Regions from separate parts of the Homo sapiens genome. Here all the other regions are linked to region 3. Evidence: fine-mapped expression QTL. A gene starts in region 3. Each other region holds a variant in brackets. All regions are shown on one strand. Distances are from middle to middle.

Region 1 (5,158 bases), 110 kb after region 3:
GAGAGAGAAGGGGGGAGAAGAGAGAGAGAGACAGAGAAAGATTTTTTTCATAAGGTTGCCAATCCTATTGGATTAAAGTCCCACCTTAATGACCTTAATTACTTTCTAAAAGCCCTTTCTCCAAATATAGTGATATTTGGGGTTAGGGTGTCAACATACAAAATTTGTGGGGACACAATTCAGTCCATACCAATACATAACTTTGAATAAAATGGAAACTAAATACTGGATATTTCTACAGAAAATCTGTGATAAAATTGGCCACAAAAATTATTTCTTCGCCAAGATGCCAATGAGGTCACTGTCACTGAGGATATTATTAACAATATTAAGAATGCTGTTTTATGTTGTTGTCTGGTTTTGTTTTTTTAATATTTATATTCATTTAGCTAATCTTCCCAAAGTTTTATTGTACCTTTTGTGATGTGTTTTTTAACAACTATCTCAATATATCTGATTTTTAAAAAGTCCAACCAGCCTGTTTGTAGGCTTGATTCTTTTATTGTTTTACTTGTTTTGCTTTAGGTAGACTTGAACACAAATCTTTGTCATATTTTTCAAGAGAATGATGAGAAAAGGTGCCATTTAGGAGAAATATTAACCTAATTTTTCCTCAGGTACATTTATATTAGACCTAAAATGTATAGGTAATTGTACTATTTTAAAAAATTGTTATTATTCAAAGCCTTAACATTTGACATGAGAAACATATTATTTTCATTGGTCTAAGACATTCTCCTGGCCAACTAAATTCATTCCATGCAGAGGTATTTCTCTGCATGTTCAACCCTTTAAACGGAGATTCAGTTTAAAGATGTTATTTGGTCAATTCATTAAAAAAAATCAAAAGCTGGTAAAAGTGATCAAAGCTTTATTTATATTTTTAGCAAATAATTAATCTTAGTTTTACTGTGTACATCATCAACATATAAAAGAAACAACAGAATAGGTACTTTTGAAAGAATTACCCCATTTATCAAGTAGACATTTTGGCTGCTTCACAAAAACAGCAGATTCCATCATTGGTGTATATAGAGGCAAATTCAAATCAAATCATTTGTGCCACTTGGGGAAGTTTGATTAACGAGATCCTGCTTGGTTTTATTAATCTTTCCACATTCTTCACTTCTCACTCTTGACACCTAACCATTCTTTTTGGAAATCACCTTTATTTTCTTCACATTTAGTGCAGCTTTAATAATAATTTAGGTTTGAAATTTTTCCCACTGCATTTTTTTATAAACTATTTACAAGATCTTTATTTCTAAGCATGTGGTGAAGATCTTTCTAATTTTCTAACCTCTTGTTAACAAAATCCACCTGGTAAAGAAAATAAAATATTAAAGTAATTGAGATCTTTTACCTCAAGCATTTTCTTTTGGCCATACTTCTTAGATTATAAAAAGGTATAAACATGCAGCTTTGGATTGTAATATCAGAACAATAATGACTTTAGTAATGATTCTCAGGGTCATTGATAGGTTCTTTAATGCTGTCTTTGAGGCAAGTGTGAATAGACTCTAAATTACCATTAAGAATTCTGTGACTGCTGTGATTACCTAAGCAAAACATATTTGATAGATTGTATAAATGTTTGCCCTGTCTCCTTAGTGAATGAATGAAATATTACCTGCTTGAAAAAAAAGTAACTTTTTAAAACTGGTCTCTTGGTCATGTTTAATTGCATGGGTTTGTTGCTTACTTTATGTACTGACAAAAGCACAGCAAATGATTCAGGCAGGAAGCATGGTTGATGCCCAATACCACCCCTCCTTAGAAAGCAAGGAAAAGCCAAATTTATGTGGAGTCAAATGGTCCAGTGAACCTAGTCCCAAGCTATGAAACTCTTTGATGAGACTCAGTAAGAGTCTTTATCTAAAAATAGATAGGAAGTTAAAAATTCCAGCAGATTCACACTCAAAATTAGGCAAAGGCTGATTTCACATTTAGCATATTTACAGAGAACACCAACCATTGGAGCCTGGAAATGCACAAGAAACAAAACAATTTTATTCCTGCCTAAGAGTGCCATTTTCAGGGTTTCAGAACACAGTGGGAGACCGTTGATTAGAAGGGAGCTTGATTCCTGCAGAGGAATGGCTTATTATTGCCCCGAGGATAAAATCCTATCACTAGATTGGAATACCATTCATGATTTAGATCCTCATTCCTTTTCCAACCTCTTTACTTCACCTCCAATGCAAAAAACTTACATTAAACAAAGAATTGGCAGGCTTTCTGTAAAGACAAATAATAAAGAGCTTATAGGCTTTGTGGACCAGTCACTGTCACAGCTACTCATTTCTGCCATTGTTACAGGAAAGTGGTCATAGATAATACATTAAGGAATGGATGTGGCTGTTTGTGATCAATACAACTTTATTTATAGAAACAAGTGACAGACCTGCTTTGTCCCATGGGCCATAGTTTACTGACTCTTCCTGTAGACCAGCTTATTTACAAACTGTGAATTGTGACCATTTAATGGGGTGTGAAATCAATTTTATAGACCAGCTTCTAAAAACAGATTTTTACTTTTATTTCTATTAATATCATTCTTAAAATTCTAAGATACAATAAGAGACAAAAATATAATATATAATGATTGTAAATGAAAAGATAAAAAGTACTGTTATTTATAAATGGTAAAGCCATAGTCCTTAGAAACCCAAGAGAATTCACCTGAAAAACCTCTAGAGTGGTGCTTCCCAAAGTTATCTACACATGGGAATCAAAGGCGAGAACTTCAAAAAAATCCTAATGCCTGAGCCTTGCTCCCAACAGACGTAATTGGCCCAGCCAGTATTTTTTTAAAAATGAGATAGAATAAATCAGAAAATATCAGTATTTATTTTGTGTTGTAACTCTTGTTTTGGGAAGCATTGTTTTCAGATTTATATTACACATATATGTGTATACTGATTGCTAAGTGAAATCTATTTGTTACCTCTGGGCATGGTCTAAAAAGTTTGAAAACTGCTCCAAATTAAATAGAATTGGCAGAAGCTTAAAAATGGAAACTTCATTTTCTTCCCATATGATATGCTATTTAGAACAATACTTGAATTTTGACTAGAACTTGGGATAAAGAGGAGAGTCCTAGAGGCAA[G/T]AAGCCCTCCCTGAAATGCAATCATGGCTGAGTTCCTCTTTAGGACAATAGCCTAAACCACAGCTGGGAAGGCAGGCAGGGAAGGACCTTCCCAGTCAGCTGTGCCTGGGCCAGCCAGCCAGCCACAATTCCAAATATCTTTCTACTTTTCCTCCTCCTCCTTATTTGCAATCATTCAGATCTCAGGTAAGCACAATAATAAAACGTAAGGAAGTTTCAGATGGAGGCACAGTAGGGACCTGAATCTCCTCACCTCCCTGTCTTGTCTCAGGTGAAGGACTTCTGTGGCATTTAATTCTGATTTCCTCTATTCTACTGCCTCATGATTTTGCTTGTTTCATTTATTTTATTTTATTTTATTTTATTTTATTTTATTTTATTTTATCGTATTTTATTGAGAAACGGTCTCACTCTGTCGCCCAGGCCGTAGTGCAATGGCACAATCTTGGCTAGCTGCAATCTCCGCCTCCCGGGTTCAAGCCATTCTCCTGCCTCAGTCTACCTAGTAGTTGGGATTACAGGCACCTGCCACCATGACTGGCTAATTTTTGTATTTTTTCGGTAGAGATGGGGTTTTGCCATGTTGGCCAGACTGGTCTCGTACTCCTAACCTCAAGTGATCTGCCCACCTTGGCCTCCCAAAGTGTTGGGATTACAGGCATGAGCCACTGCACCTGGCCCCCTGTTTTGCTTGTTTTAATTCCAAGTATGTTTCAAACAGAAATTAAGATGAGAAAAGGGAACTTCCCCTTTTAGGTTGTAACTTCTGGGACTGCACATGATACCCTAAGGAAATTTAGGTAATGTCAGTTGTACAGGTGGAGGAGAAGGAGGAGGAGAGAAAGATACAGAAGAAGGGTTACAGAGTGACTTGTGATGACACAGTGTTTTGGGGATAAAGGAATCCTAGAGATTTGTGGGGTGGAGGGAGGTGAATGAGGAAACCATGTAAACATTAATCATTTTATCTTTTGGACTTAGTCTTCATCTTTATTAAAGATGTAGAACATCTTTAGTGATGAGAGTTCCCGTGGTGAGAATTTCTTACATTACAGATCACATCACGTGTTAATTAATTAACAAACACACACAAATGGTTGAAGCAAGATAAAGCCTCATATTTGTTTTTTGTTGCTGTTTTCTTTCTTTTTTTAAAAAAAAAACAGGAAATAATTTCAGTCAGATTATATCTCAAAACTGGAAAAGACTTCAAGATCATATAAAATTATCTGCCCTTTTTTTTTGGTTGGTTTGTTTCAGTTGCTTATTAAATTGAAGTATTGAGAGAATAAGTCAGAAAGAGTAAGCACAGAGAAGAAACTTGATCCCAGGTTTCAAGATTCCTGATTATGGAGTGTTTTTACCAGGGCAATACATTTGTCTTTACGTTCTTCTTAAGGAAAGGGTTACATCCCGCTGTACTGTACAGTGTAATGCAGTCCAGTCACACATTTATTCATTAATTCTTTCAGAGACTATTGATTAAATTCCTGTGATGTGCCAGTCACTACTAAGTGCTTCTCTCTAAAAGTAGAATGAGTCATCTTGGTGTGTGTCCTCATCACTTCCATACTGTAGTAAGGGAAATAAATATTAAATCACTTTGAGAATATTCAGTTCTGGACAGGAAAGACAGTGGAGTATGGATTTCCTAAAGTCTTATCTGCCAATTATCTCTCCAGAATGTGAGAAGAGCATTTTAACTCCATTTTATGTTCTCAAATCCCAAGAAAATAAGGAATCAAGAAAAATATAACAAGAAAAATAAAGAGGTGTTGAAATGAAGAAACCTTAAAATCTAAAAAGATTCCTAATTTTTTTAATGTTGTCTTAAATTTTTGCATTGAACTATCTCCTTCAAGTTTCCCTAATTTATACATGTTTTACCCAGAAATAACAGTCAGCAATGCATGCTAACTTTAAAAAGTCACGTTTATCACATGTTGTTTTCAGAGCCAAAAGCCAAATGTCCTGTCTCCCGATGATTCCCATATGGAATAGTTGAATGCAAATATTTATATTAAAATTATTTTCATAGGTGCCAATCTT
Region 2 (5,158 bases), 92 kb after region 3:
TCAGTACTCTGGATTTTGGCCATTCTAAGAGGTGTGTAGCAGTATCCTATTGCTTCAGTTTGCATTTCCCTAGTGACAGATGATATTGAGCATCTTTTCGTTTGCTCATTTGTCATCTGAATACCTTCTTCTGTGAGATGTCTGACACTACTATTTTTTCTCCTGTTTTAAAAGTGTTATTTCCTGACAGTAATAATACTTAGAATATTAAAACAAATATGGATATAACAAAACATTTAAGATGACTTCCATTCCATGACTTTTTATGGTTGCACAATGCTGGAGCCTTGTATATATCACCTTTCAATCTTGTCAAATACCATTTGTTAAAGCTATCCTTCTATGGGAGAAGAAACCAAGGCTCAAGCAGGTAGCTTTGTTGAACTCCTGCAGTTAGCAACTGTCCTAGCAAAGATTTGGACTTGTTCTCAGCTCCAAGTCCAATACTGTTCCTGCTACATCAAAATTGATCCAGTCAAAGATGAGCACCAATTATTGGTGCTTTATTTATAATTAACACAACACCAAAATGGTTTTTAATCTTCAGCCAACAATGTAGCTGGTTAAAATTATACTCTATTTGAAATGTATGGACTGAAAAAGGTCAAAAAACATCATTTTCAATTGATGAGTTAGCTAGAGTTAGCCATTTAGGGAAAGCAAAAAGGGGAGCCAAATTTAAATCTTATATTTGATTTATATTGTATTTCTTTTTTCACTAAAATATTTGTATTTGTTAAAAATTTGATTTTTGTAGTGACATGACACACTATTAGTTATTCCTAATAACACTTAAGGTAGGAGTTTTAATCTTTCAATATTAGGTTGTTAAAGTAGTTTTATTATCTCATTTTATTGTGGTTTGTCATTGTAGCATTGCTTCTTAGCCATATTTTTATTAAAATATACTAAAATAGTTGGTTCATATCTGAAATGTAACCATAATTTTAAAAATGCATCTGGAATACATCTTTACTGATATTAATAGGTCTATTATTTTCTTCTTCCTTCATAATTTGACAACTGTACTTTTTGAAAAATGGATGTTTATTTCTGTTTTCCTCCTGAAATGACACAGTTTAAATTTTAAAGAGAAATTACTAAATAAATGCTCTTTAAGCACCCCTGTATTTGTCTTTTGAAACCAAATACCAGTAGCACAGTAGACCACAAAATTATTCAGTAAAACCTTGGTGCCAGTTCCTGTAAATTCAAACAATATGAAAAATGTGCATTTTGAAAAATCAAGGCTGGTATGTTTTTCACATACATAATTATTTGAATCATTGCTCACAGCAATGTGGCAGAACATGGCATCTTTGGTGATTTCTTCCAATCTTTGTCTTTAAAAAATATATATACATCTCTAGTTATCTCAAGGCTTTGCCCCACCATTTACTGAAATTGTTTACTACATTGTATCTCCTCTCCCAGATTGTTAAATTACAAATATTATGAAAGCTATTATTAGGAATATATGTTACACAACAAATCAATGGATAACTTAATTGGAAAAGGTCCTCAAATGTTTCCTATAACCTGGGTACACAGAAGGAACATTTATCCTTCTGGATCATGTTCAAATAGAAAAGCCATTGTACTGGGTTTTACAGCCTTTCTTGGGCATATGTGCAAATGAGAAGCTAAATATTTTGGAAGCCTATTGTGTACATTTTGGACAAAGTGCTAATGTCCTATACCTAGGAATAAAACTGAAGTTTGCTTCCTACCTTCTTCCAAGTATAATTCTTAGAGCAATTCTTAGAGGGATGCACATTGAGCTAGCTTGCTGTTAGGCTGAAGTCGAGACATAAGCTGCTGATAATAGTAATCTCATTCTTCTAAAGAATCGGTAGGAAGGAGGAATATATTTTCTTTGTGTAATTGTTAGCATCTTTACTGACATAATATAGAGTTAAATTCATTGTTTTAATTTATAAAAACCTGTGAAATGATTTTTTGAATACCTTGTCAAATATTAACTAATGCTTTGTTTCAAATAACTAATATTAGTTTAAAATATTAATGAAAAGATCTTTGGCAACTGGTTTTCCTTTAATATTTTTACATTGGAAATAATGAACACTGAAACGTTTATAAATTAATTTTAGTTGTTTTACCATAATAAGAGCATTGATTAAAATAAAATCCTATTTTGATGTGCTTTGTTAATTAGTTTGAATTATTGATCAATATTTATGTTGATACTTATTTTTAATAAGCATAATAGTAATAATTTTTATTTTATATATTTTTATAGATTCATATAAATTCCTTTTATCTGTACAGTAAAAATTAGTAAGGTTCATTTTAATGCCAAAGCATTTAATTGAAGAAATATTATAAACATACTTGTTACATAAATTTAGTAATAAAAAGAATATTCATTTTCAAATAAAATACTTTGACATAAGACTTTTGATCTTCAATATATTATATTCCTTACATTTATTCAGTAATTTATAAACTCTGTAAATGTCTTAATTGGTTTATGCTGCTATAACAAAATACCTGAGACTGGGTAATTTATAAAGAACATGAATTTGTTTCTTAGTTCTGGAGGCTGGAAGTCAAAGATCAAACTCTGGCAGGTTTGGTGTCTGGTAAGATCCTAGTCTTTGCTTCTGAGAT[G/A]GTGCCTTGAACACTGTGTCCTCACAAGTCCAAGGTGAGGATGGAAAGGTAAAAGGGCCAGAAAGGGCCTGACTTGTCTCCTCCAGCCCTTTTGTAAGGCTCGAATCCTTTCATGAGGGCAGAACCCTCATGACCTAATGACCTCCCAATGACCAGACCTCTTAATACTGTTTCACTGGGGATTAAGTTTCAACGTAAGTTTTGGAGAGGACACAAACATTCAAGCTGTAGCAGTAAACTAATTCCTAAGTCAGATTATAAATTTGCATCTTATAATAATTTACTTGAGATCCCCAGATGGCAATCTACACCATTATGGCATGCCTGCTACTTGTACCTACAAATGCTTCCACTGTTTATACTATATTAAACAAGATATAGTCATTAAAATTGACAACTTGTTCCCTGGCCCCTCAATGTCTAGGTCTTTTTCTAAACACAATTTTCTCACGAAATGTAACATACATGATAGCATGAATCATTGTCTGTTTTGTTCACTAATGTATTATGACTCTTAAAACGACCTGGCATTTAATAAGGGGCTCCATATATAGCTATTGAATGAATGACTAATACTAGCAGTAGGCATTTAGTGTTGATAATACAGGTTATTTGCATGGACATATGTAATATCTATGCAAAGTCGTTGGCAACCTGGAAAGCATATTTTCCAAAGATATATGCTAAAGTATTATCAATAGTTATCTCAAAAAGCGAAGGTAAGTGCAGGCAGTGGAGGGAGAATGTCCTTTTTAAAAAACAATTTCATGTTACCTACATGAAAATCAGTAAGTTTCTGAACATATAAAAACGTATAACATGTTCATAAACATATAATGTAAACATATAAATGTTTATGAACATTTCCTGTTATACTGGAAAGAGAACAGAGAAAATGCAGTTAGTGCTTTCTCATTTATTAGAATTTGGATTAAGGGCAATTATATGGAGCAAAAACAGAAGTTAAAAAGTATACAGTTTGAAAAAGAGGTTGTCAGAGAAAATGCTGGAGGTATGACATAGACCCTCTCTGTGTGGAAATTCCTTAGTAAGGTCTCCACATTCTTAGTTCTTAAATGTCCATGGATGAGAGGATAATAATGAGCTGACCCATGCTACCGAGCATGAATTTGAATCAAGGAACAGCAAATAGAATTTGCTAAAGTATAAAATAAATTAGTATGTTCAGAGAAAAAAATTAGAAGGCATCATGAAGATGCCAGACAGATCCAATTGTTAGAAAGAATTAAGCTGGAGCATTTCTAGGTACCTTTTTTCTCCAAATATTAGGAGTCTATTGATTTGCTGATTTGTAACAAGAGATGGGCAAATCGCAATCACACTTTACCTCAACTTCTTTAAGCCTCATTGTAGACATGGAAAATACGTTTGCCTCTAGTGGGAGAAAGTCGTAGATGAATAGCATAGAGAGTAGGAATAATCCAGGATGTGACAATTTTATCTAATAAAACACATGCTTTTATCTTTATGGTGAGACAATTAAATGCTGTGACTTCTACCATGTGCTTTATTTTTTAAGCCTATTTAAATGGGAGAGAGAAAAAAGAAAAAAGTAACACATCAATTCACTTCAACATTTAAAAAATAGATTTAGCGGCACAAGTGCAGTTGTGTTACATGCATATATTATGTACTGGTGACGTCTGGGACACTTCAACTTTTTGATGCAGAAAGCAAGCTAGCATTAGATGGATTTACTTCTATATCTCAGGTCAGGGCGAATTTTTATTTTTTATTTTTGGGTAAAATGCATTTTTGGTCTACAATAAATAATAGTAAGAAAAGCAGTACTTAATGAAATTCAAGACTGCACCTATTCTCTATAATGAATAATTCCTGCACTTATAGTTAAATTGTTTCTATTAAATGGAATTGTTTCTATGAAAAGCACAAGTCTTTTTTTTTTCCATTTTTATTTATTTATTTATTTATTTTGAGACGGAGTCTCGCTCTGTCACCCAGGCTGGAGTACAGTGGTCTGATCTTGGCTCACTGCAAGCTCCGCCTCCCGGGTTCACGCCATTCTCCTGCCTCTACCTCCCTAGTAGCTGGGACTACAGGCGCCCGCCACCACGCCAGGCTAATTTTTTCCTATTTTTAGTAGAGACGGGGTTTCACCGTGTTAGCCAAGATGGTCTCCATCTCCTGACCTCGTGATCTGCCCACCTCGGCCTCCCAAAGTGCTGGGATTACAGTAGTGAGCCACCGCACCCAGAGAGAAGCACATGTCTTTAAAGTGTTAGTAATCTTGTTATAAAGTAAATGTTCTGTAATTGAAAAGAAAAATTCAAAGGAGACTTTTTCTTCTTTTGATATTACATTACTACATTTGGAAACTGTTGACATACTCTTTTGTACACTGGGTTAAAAAAAACTGCCCCTATCATCTTTTCCTCTCCAATTTTGTTGAATGTGTCTACATCTCTAGAACGGTCAGAAAGATTGTCTTAGCTCTATGTAGAAATCGAAAGCAGTATTGCGTGCACGTATCTTTACCCAAAGGCCT
Region 3 (5,158 bases):
GATTTGTCTATAGTATTATTGATTTGTGTGTAATTATGAATAGAAGCCTCTTTTATTCTCAAAAAAAGTCTTGTTTAGATGATGAGCTATTTGATGACTCTACTTCTGAGGATTCTTCTTGTTTTATTTTATGATGTAAGTGACTAATTTGGTCCCAAAGACTCTTTATTCCATTGCTAATGCCACATAGGGGAAACTGAGACTATAGATAGTTTTCTTAACAGTCATTTTTTGGCATCATCTATATATTTTCTATAGGATAAAGATAAAGGTAAAAGGACATAAAGAGTAGTTAAAAGAAATAAGTAAGGACATTGACAACTGGCAGATAAGCCAAAGCACATTTTGAGGAATCTAAACAACCCATTATTCTGGCATTTACTTCTAAATTGCTCCAACTTAATCTGAAGGATGAGATGTAAAACCAAAGACAGATCTTGGCATTCATAACATATATTCTCTTGTCAACACTTTAGAGGTGCATATTTTGTGTACTAATGAAATGATTGTAATGTCTCACATTGTCTCAGTTCTATAGTAGAGTTAGGACAGGCACTATGCAATCTTAAGTAGAATTTCAGCTATGTGAGAGTAGCCATGAATTTGCAATAAAAGGTGTAGGCACCACATTTACTTTTCCTATAATCCTACTATTAGATAACACATATAAGAGCTGCTATTTATTTTGTCATTTGTTTCCATCCTAGAAGAAAGCAAAAGAGAATTTTGAAGGTACAATGTATCACATTTAGAGCAACCTTTAGGTCTGTAGCTCATCAGACTGGCTTTTAAAATATGCAAGCATTCCAGGTTAAAAGTCTCTAAATAACTTCATGTCATTTTACTGTTAAATAATGTTTAGAGTTTGCTATCTTTTGTAGACCTTGGAAATCTAATTATTTATAATGTCCAGTGACATTTACATTTTGCTAAATATACTCTGCTTGTACAAGAACATCTCATGATTAGAAAAATGGGTAGAGAATGCCTGGCTGTACATATGCTTCTATATAATGCAAAAATATCAGGGTGACACATGTTATCTTTTTGTTATAGTTTCGTGATTTTAAAACATAATTCTCAAAAAGTTTTTAACTATTAGCATTTAAAATACAGAATAAGAAAAAGTTATCATAGTTGAGATCAGTGTTTACCATTTAACTCTCCACTATCAAATCAAATATCTATTCAAGTTTATTGGTATCTTAACATAATACCATTCATTTCCATGCCAACAGCTCCTGAGTGTTTGGCTTAGTTTTTGAGATTGATTGAAGGTAGATTGTAAAGTTGACCTATTGTGTTAAGCTTATTTACACAAACACAGTGCCTTGGAAAATCAACTCTGGAAGTCCATAGCAGTTGAATCCTAAGGTATTGCACATCCTAAGTTTTCTAATACCTGCTTTATAGAAATCCCTTGGGTGGTGAATCTCAACTTTGCCAGTTACCTTACCTGGGGGAAATTACTTCAACATTCCTAAATTTGAAGTAAAATTTAGGAATTGCTTTAGGACAAAGGATTTGCCTTTAATTTCATTTGACCAATTTGCTTAAGTAAATAATTTATCATTTCTATCAAATTTATGAGACAGTCACAGATGAACTTTTTTTTTTCAGGCTCTTGAAACACACTTTTCTTAAAAGAGTTTAAAAATAACATCCCTAAGATATAAGCAATAGAAAAAGACTTAATTTTGAAAAAAACCTTATGGCAACAGTGAAAAACAGAATTTGGATTCTGGATGGTTACAAATAGATTATTTTCAAAAGAAGTTGGATTTATTCAACTTAGGTCAATTTATCTTGGTAAGAATTTAAAAGCGCTTTCTGATGCCACATCCTTGTCTGTCACCTATTCTTAAATAATCAGTCTATGTCATCACCCCTCCCGAACTCCCCATTTCCCCCATCAAAATGTGGACTTCTCTCCTGCTGCTGAGTAACGTGGGGCTGGTTATGACTGGGAGGGAGGATGGGAGCGAGGCACGTGGACCAGAAATACTTCCTAGAAACAGCAAGTACGCTGCTCAACCCTGCCTGAACTTTCCTGTAAACAGCCACTGACAGACTGCATCCCTGCTGGGTGGATCCTGCGACTCCTAGAGGGAATGGCACTTCTTGTTTTTAATTAGCAAGGTGAAAGGTGAATTAAAACTAGCAGTTTGGCAAGTCAGTGCAAGAGGCTGACTTCTGAGAGGCTTCCAGGAGCCCGAAGAGAGGACCTCCACGGGAGAAGGGAGTGCGTGTGCTCGGTTTTGTTTTTTTCTCTCTTTTTTTTTTTTTTTTCTGAATGAACAGCTTTGCCCAAGTGACTGAAAAATACAGCTTCTTCCTGAATCTACCGGCGTAGTTGCTGAAGAGCGCTCTAGACAGGACATGGCTCTGAAGACTCACTCTTTGGAATGTCCTCTTGCTCCCGGCTTATAAACAACTGTCCCGAGGAAAGAAAGGTTTTACATAGCCAAATACAGCCTGACAAATGGCACTTCGGAACTGTGCTTTCTGATGACAACGCGTTCGATTTCTGACAAAGCCTCTCGCACGCTGCCCCTGGAGGGAAGTCCTAAGTAAAACTCAGACCCTCCTTAAAGTGAGGAGCGAGGGCTTGGACGGTGAACACGGCAGCATGGCATCCGCGGGGCACATTATCACCTTGCTCCTGTGGGGTTACTTACTGGAGCTTTGGACAGGAGGTCATACAGCTGATACTACCCACCCCCGGTTACGCCTGTCACATAAAGGTAGGTTACCTTTCCAGATCCTTTTGTTTAAAAAAAAAAAAAAAGAAAAAGAAAAAAGAAAAAAAAAGTCGTTTAACATTAACATAGGCTTATGGTCTTCAAAGACCTTTAAAATGCACCTGAAAAATTTATTGCAAAACTGACCTAAAATTCTAAGTACCTCTGATTAATGTGTCATACTCACCTCATCTGAAAACAGTGCAAAATCACATGTCAACTTAGAGATGTTATTTTTGTCTGTAAACATTGGATTTTATCAATAAGGAGTTCACTCACTAGCCCGCGGAACACAGGAAGGGAGGAAGCAGGTTGAAAATAGCCTTGAGAGGCTGAATCCACCAAGTTAACAGTAGATATTTAAATATCAGTTTATGCATATGAGAAACAAGGATGCTGGGAAAGGGCTATAGAAATAGGGGTGCAATTTGTTCTTTTTGTTTTTGTTTTGTTTTGTTTCCATAATGGAGGTAAGAGGAGAAAATAAAAATCCCGAGGAGAAAAATGATGCCCTACCCATAACTGTCATCATCATGTAATTAAAATGATTAACAACTAATATAAATTAGTTTTCCAGTTGAATTGATTATTAGAATTTTTTCATGTGTGGCAAAGGAAAATAGTTTATGACAATGCTTGTAAAATGGCTAATATGGATTAAAGTATTAGTATTCACTAGCATTTGTAGTGTAAATTTATATTGCCTTAATGAAGATCTAACAGCAAATGTTTAAATATTTCATTCTACAATTGTCTTGTAAAGCAACATCATACTCATAAATAAATGATTAAAAGATAGATTTTGCATCAGGACCAATACAAGCCAGTCATGAATAGGTTTGGTAATTCCTCCTGTAAACAAACAAATAATAAACAAAACCATGCTCAGAGAAAGTGACTTTGCTGACTTAATATAAATTCGGAATAAATTGTCAGCAAAGAAGTATTTATTATCACTAGCCATTGACACATTGAGACAGATAGCAGATGTAATACTCAGGATTACATAAGAATCATTTTTCAATTGTGTAAGCTTTTAAATTGTCCCCCACTGTAGAAAGAACAGAAGCTTGTATTTTCTAAGTACAGGTAGAATATTTATCAGGAGAAACAAAAAGGGAGTCCTCAATTTTATGTGACACGTTTGGCCTTTTTGTCTTTTTATTGGACAATCTTCAGTAAATGTTGACTATAGAAATTTTTTCATTTTTAGAATAGTGGATGTTTTCTTAGTTTAAATAGATTTCCTATAATACTATCCAGTAGATAATATAAATTTAAGAAATCCATTGATACTAAATTGGTAAAGTGTTTAAAATATAGTGCCCAGAATTAACACTAATCTTTTAACTTGGGAAGATGTATCATGGTATGTATCAAAATGCCTATTTCTAAGAAGTTTATCATCAAAGATGTCAACATGTACAAATTTGATGTGATGGAATATGGACAAATAAAAATGCAAAAAAATATAATTGATTGTTTTTCTTATGTAGACAAGTAGATAAGCTGCCAGTTTTTGCAAGCTACAATTCTGTTATATCTAGTATTAACATTTTATACCCTATTATTGGGGTACTTGTGTTTTCATGGTTCAATATCAGTGTGTTTTCCAACAGGTCACATTTTAATATTTCATAAGAGAGTTAATAATTTGATCAAAAAATACCAAAGTTCTCTGATACAAGTAAATGTTATGCATAATACTATTATCGAGTTCATCTTTATTATGTCACTTATATTCAAAGAAATAATTGTAACTGATGTTATGAGTGGTGTCATATGGTGTGAGAGTAAAACCGCTAGTATCTATATGTACAATAGACTGAAAACTCCCACAGGATTTCCCTTAACTTTGAATTTAATGGAACCAGCTGAAAATGCACAATATGATGTTTTTATACAAAGGCAGAATAGAGAGAGTTACCTGAAAATAGAATGTTCCTACTTGTGCAATTTAGTTAGTAAAGTCAGTTAAGAGATCACACTGGAGATGCTACCTGAAGCAGCAAATGCCTACTGCACCTCAGGGGCCTCAGTGAAAAGAAGAGCATATATACTGTCAGAGGAGGGATATTCAGTCCCACCAATACAATATGAACAGCCCATTTATCTCTCTAGACTCTGGAATTCAGTGAATATTTTAGAAGTCTTCAAAAACTAGGAATAAGATATTACAGATTAATCTTTTGCTGACTTGACTAATGTCAGTAACGACAAGTGTTCAGTAGCGAGTGAATTAAGTAATTAATATTTAAATGAGTATATAATCTTTCAATATAAGAGGCACTAGGTATATGTCATATAGCATCTCTGTACCGCTGCCTGACCACTAGCAAGGAAATCCAGGAGGCTCCCTGGAGATAGCCTACTAGAATAATTCAGAAATTCTTTTCACAGTTAATGATCTAAGCTGT
Region 4 (5,158 bases), 30 kb before region 3:
ATGAATGACAATATAATAATAATTTTCAAAGTTAATAAAATAATACAGATAAACAGTATTGAATGTTTTTAGTATCCAATTTAGGCATAAGAAAATTCTTTCATTTAAAATATGTCCTTCCTTGCCCACCTTAATTAAATCCATTTTGGTTTTGTAGATAATAATAATGTTGAAATAACATTTTTATACATAATAATAAGTTTTCTTGGCCTTTACTCCACCTTCATTATTCATAAAATTAAACATGTATGTTCCTTTCCCCTCCAAAAATATATTCTTTCCATTACAAAAATAATCACTTACATTGTTACAGAAATACATATGGCTGAAAGTCTCTTTATACCTTTATCATTAAAGGTATTATGTAATTTGTTTGCTTTTCTAAAAAAATTTTTTTAAACCAAGATCATAATCATTTAATAAAAAATATATCTGCTGTATTTTAATCAAAAGAATTGCTACTAATGTTGATGAGGTTAACTGTTAAAGTAGAAACAATGACGGGCTCCGTGGCTCATGCCTGTAATCCCAGCACTTTAAGATGGTGAGGCAGGAGGATTGCTTGAGCCCAGGTGTTCAAGAGCAGCTTGGGCAATATAGTGAGACCTCTGTCTCCACAAAAAGGGAAACAGCCAAGCAAGGTGGCATGTGTCTGTAGTCCCAGCTACTCAAGAGGCTGAGGTGGGAGGATTGCTTGAGCCCGGGAGGTTGAGCTATAATCATGCCACCACACTCCAGCCTTCCAGCCTGTGCAACAGAGTGAGATCCTTGTCTCAAAAAGGAAAAAAAAAAAAGGTAGAAATGTTGTCTTTCTTTTCTTCTTCCAAATGAGTATCTCAACTCATTGACACCACATTGTCCTTGTATTATCTCACTTGGGAACTGCCTCCCTTAGGTCATTCCTTTTTTTTTTTTTTTTTTTTTTTGAGACAGGGTCCCAGGCTGGAGTGCAACGGCACAGGCTTGGCTCACTGTAACCTCTGCCTCTCAAGCTCAAGTCATCGTCACACCTCAGCCTCCCAAATAGCTGAGACTACAGGTGTGCACCACTACACCTGGCTCATTTTTGTGTTTTTTATAGAGATGGGGTTTTGCCCCATTGCCTAGGCTGGTCTTCAACTCTTGGGCTCAAGCAATCCAGCAATCCACCTGCCTCGGCCTCCCAAAGTGCTAGGATTACAAACATGAGCCACTGCACCCAGCCCATTTCTTTTTCTTGAGATCTTTTTCTTCCCATATGCTCCAACAAAGCTTACTTGATCAATGCTTAATTTCTCCATGACTTTTCTGCTTTATTAATAGATAATGACAATAGAAAATAAATTGGGGGTATCTTAAACCTCAAAAGTAATGTGTAGGTTTTGAACTAGGGATCTTTGGACACACAACAGAAATGGATTTAGTCGTTTATATTTCAGTGCTCGGGGAGGTCATATTTTGGAAAGGTGAGCTATCTGGTATCTCAAATTAAACATACGGAGATAAGAATCCAACCCCCTTCCTATGAGATTGGTTATATATATACAGTATTTGTATGGTCTGAATTATACATATAAAGTATTTGTATGGTCTGAATATGAACTATTCACATTTGTTTATTTTAAAAATATACTTTAGGAAAATATAATTTTATCATAATCTACTTTGTAAGAATTAAGTGATGTTGGTAAAATGATTTCATAAAAGATTGCCAATCATTAGATTAATATGAAAATTTTAAATTCTGAATGTGTGTTCTATTTTTGAAAATAACACAAATTAATAATTAACCTTTAATCTCTATATTAATACATTTTATTTCATTTTGAAATCTTTTTATAATACGGTAACTCATGGCCCAAAGATGTGCTTTGACTGCTAACATGGGACAATCTATTTTATTCTGGGAATTCTCAAATATATCCCAAATAGGCAAATCCTATCTTATAAAGTATTCAAATATTAAGTGGTGAAGACTTTAATTTTTAGATAATTAGAAAATCATTCAGCCCTTAAATTAATAATTTTTTT[A/T]AAAAAGTTATCTAAAGCTAATATTGAAATAGACTATAGGAGAGTCCCAGAAGCTAGCCTCTCTTAAGAGCTCTGCTAGGACATGTTCTAATAAGTTTTTTGACTTCAGGAATCTAGAGTTGGTGTTGATTAAATTCCTCACCCCTCCAGTACTGACTCCAGCAACCCTGCAGCCTCACACAGACCTACAGCCCTTGATCCTACCACCTCTACACTCCCCTCCCAGTCCACCTTGATCATTCTTCTGCAGCCCAGTGACAGTCTATGGTCAATCTTTATGATCATTTTTCTGGATACTCTCTCTACTCTCTTGTCTCTCTTTCTTCACTATATATGCTTAGCAAAATACCTAAACCTACTACACCTACTGCTTTCTGCATCTCAGCTAATAAATCTCCATTCTTCCAAATGTTCAGGCCTGACCCAGCTATTTACTTTACATACAATTGATTAGCAAATTCTATCAGTTCCACCTATAAAATACGTACATCAATCATTTTCCATCAGTTTCAATACTCTCTTTGGTCCAAGCAAACATTATTTTTTTTCTGAATTGTAACAGTTTCCTAACAGGTATACCAGATTGATCGTTCTTCTCTCCTTATGTTCCCAGTCTGTTTTCAATACAAAAGCCAGAGTATCCCTTTAAAAACATAAATCAGATTATGTCTCAACTCTATTTGAAAGACAATTGCTTTTATTCTCGTCTGACAAGAAGCCTCCACTTCTTTGCCTTATTCTCTCTCAGGTCTCATCTTTTCCTAGCCTCTCCTACTTGTCAATTCACTACAACCCATCTGTCTTCTTGCTCTTCTTGGGTCATTCTAGCAATGCTCCCAGGTGCTTCACAGCCTTTAAACTTGTCCCTTTGGCCTGGAATGCTATTTTCCCTGGAGGCTAGGTTGGTTGAGGATGGAGAAGGGCTTGTTTCTTCACCTCCTACAGTTCTTGGTTTAATTATCACCTTCTCGCAAAGATCATTACTAATCATAGGATTTAAATGTTATCATCTCAATGACCCCACTTGCTTTTCTTGAGTTTTTTCTTTATCACATTTACACAATACAATTTATTCTACTCATTTGTATTATTTACTTTCCTCATGAGATGTAAGTCCATTATGTCATTTGTCAGTTTTATTTATTGTTGAATTCTCTGTAACTAGCACAGTGCTTGAACACAGTTTTTGCTCAACACAAGTTTGTTGAATATATTCAGGAAAAAACATACAACTGGTTTTTAGTCATCATAAATGGTAAGAACTTGGGCTTTGGAGTCAAAGATCTTGTGTTCATTTTTTGGCTCCACCAATTATGAGCTGTGTGAGCATGGAGATAATAACCATGTCCATCTCACAGAGCAGTTGTGATATATTAATGAAGAACAAGCCCAAAGGGTATGTTTTGGAGTTCCTGGCCAGAGTAAACACTGGTCACTGTTTTTATGAAAGTATTTTTGAGTGGGCGGGGAAATGTGCTGTGTATCCTGTATGCTGTATCTCATTAAGTCTGCTTGCCTATAAGTTAAACATGAAGTGCTGTTGCCTCTGGGGACTCCAAGAATATCCGGACTCCTCCAGACTTTTAGACTAAGTGAAGATACGGGGTAGGTTGATGTTTTCTTTAGGGTTGTGTCATGTCAAGTGTCCACTGGACATATCTTAATTTATTCTGCAATTACTCATACTCACCAGTACTTATTGGAAATGTAAATAAAGGATACTATAAATTATGATGAAAAGGATGGAGAACCATAGGATAAATAAAGAGGAGCTAAAAATAATCACTGAAACCTGAGCCAGTCCAGAGACTGTGGTAGGTCCCAGAGGGGATTCCTGGCTCTAGGGATCCCCTAAGGCCTTCAGGGTTTACACTTTCCATTTGGGTGTGGGCCTGTGACTCAGGCTGAATCATCCCCACTGAACTAGTCCAGCTGTTTCCATTTCCAGAGCTACGAGAACTTCCTTAGTCTGCAGGTTGTTTAAAGTAGTCACTTAAAGCACTTTAAAAATTGTCGAAGTGACTTCTGCCTTAGAAAAGCAAAAAATAAATTCTGCTGTTTTTAGAGGTATGAATCAACCTGGGAGCCCAATCCTAAATTACAAAAAGTGGAAAAAACTTACCCTAACTCTTCATTTAGAAACCACCTTTGCACCTGGACACTTGATTTAACAGCACATTCTAACGTGGAAGAAAAAGAAGAGGAAAAAAAAAATTAAACTCATTAAGAATAGTAACTTTGCAAAAAAAAAAAAAAAAGCCTTTGGTCACAATTTAGGAGTTGAAAAAAAAAGAAATTAAAACTCTTCTCACTCTAACTTAGAGTTCTATAGGATTGTTAGGATCTGCAAATATATTTGAATAGAAATCAAATTATTTAGGAAGAATATATTTTATTACTGTTTGTGGAAGATTTTGCAAGGCAATATGTGGTAGAATATTCAAAGTACTAGAGATGAGTTAGATCAGACTCTGGCTCATTTCCCAGGAAATATAATATTGTATAAAGAAAAGCAGTATAATCAGTTTCTTATGCTACCCATTCAGGTGTCTCACGTTTACCGGAAATTTAAAACAGATCTTCAAAGAGAAATCGACTTAACATGTAAAAGAATAAGACCAGATACCAACAGAAGCTAAATGGTGTTCTTGTGTATAAAAATTTTGAATGCATAAAATTTATAATTTTATAGAATTAGTAAAAATAAATAGAAAGGAATGTTGATAGACATAGAGTTAGAATATGTTCATTAAGTAAAAAAAAAACAAAAAGCCCAATTTTACTTCCATATGGAATATAACCAAATAATCCTGTTGCAATTGAAAGGCTAAAGCAGAATAAGAAATGCTAACACTGTGTTAGGTACAGAGATGTCCTCTGTAGATGATGAACCAGTAAGTAGAAGAAAATTTAGCTGTAAACCAAGCTCAGAATTAAGTGGGCAAAGAGAAGCTAACAAAAATGCCTGAAATTAATGAATAGGTAGGTTGGCCCATATTAATATTCAAATATTCAACTTGAACTTACAGTGATTTTTTTTTCTTGTGCTTTTGAAGTTATTTTTCAAAGATACATAATTTTTAAGTCACAGACATAAATTGTTGCCAGAAAGGTTCAGGTAACAGATCATGAAAACGTAAGCATTATT

Alleles and levels. Positions count from the first base shown, and alleles are read on the strand shown. Sizes are in standard deviations (SD) of each study's normalised expression. Not every link is listed here.
For the expression in lung of the gene that starts at base 2,033 in region 3, allele G in region 1 goes with a lower level than allele T (moderate effect, 0.55 SD a copy in GTEx).

The links. PIP is the estimated chance that this variant, and not a neighbour inherited with it, causes the effect.
Region 1: its variant is the best candidate, but not a certain one, in a credible set for the expression of SEMA3E in lung (GTEx, PIP 0.81).
Region 2: its variant is the best candidate, but not a certain one, in a credible set for the expression of SEMA3E in lung (TOPMed, PIP 0.60).
Region 4: its variant is the best candidate, but not a certain one, in a credible set for the expression of SEMA3E in sigmoid colon (GTEx, PIP 0.88).

Annotation. Positions count from the first base shown.
Region 1 is chr7:83,531,891-83,537,048 of GRCh38, reverse strand. All of the region lies in intron 1 of SEMA3E (semaphorin 3E), which reads left to right. Among named protein-coding and RNA genes, the nearest start is that of SEMA3E, 110 kb to the left of the region's middle. The variant G/T (reference allele first, on the strand shown) is at 3,110.
Region 2 is chr7:83,554,406-83,559,563 of GRCh38, reverse strand. The region is part of intron 1 of SEMA3E (semaphorin 3E); the gene reads left to right. Among named protein-coding and RNA genes, the nearest start is that of SEMA3E, 92 kb to the left of the region's middle. The variant G/A (reference allele first, on the strand shown) is at 2,632.
Region 3 is chr7:83,646,014-83,651,171 of GRCh38, reverse strand. SEMA3E (semaphorin 3E) reads left to right here and starts at 2,033. Exons shown (of 17, transcript NM_012431.3): 1 at 2,033-2,744. The coding sequence starts at 2,630.
Region 4 is chr7:83,676,018-83,681,175 of GRCh38, reverse strand. No RefSeq gene overlaps it. Among named protein-coding and RNA genes, the nearest start is that of SEMA3E, 29 kb to the right of the region's middle. The variant A/T (reference allele first, on the strand shown) is at 2,011.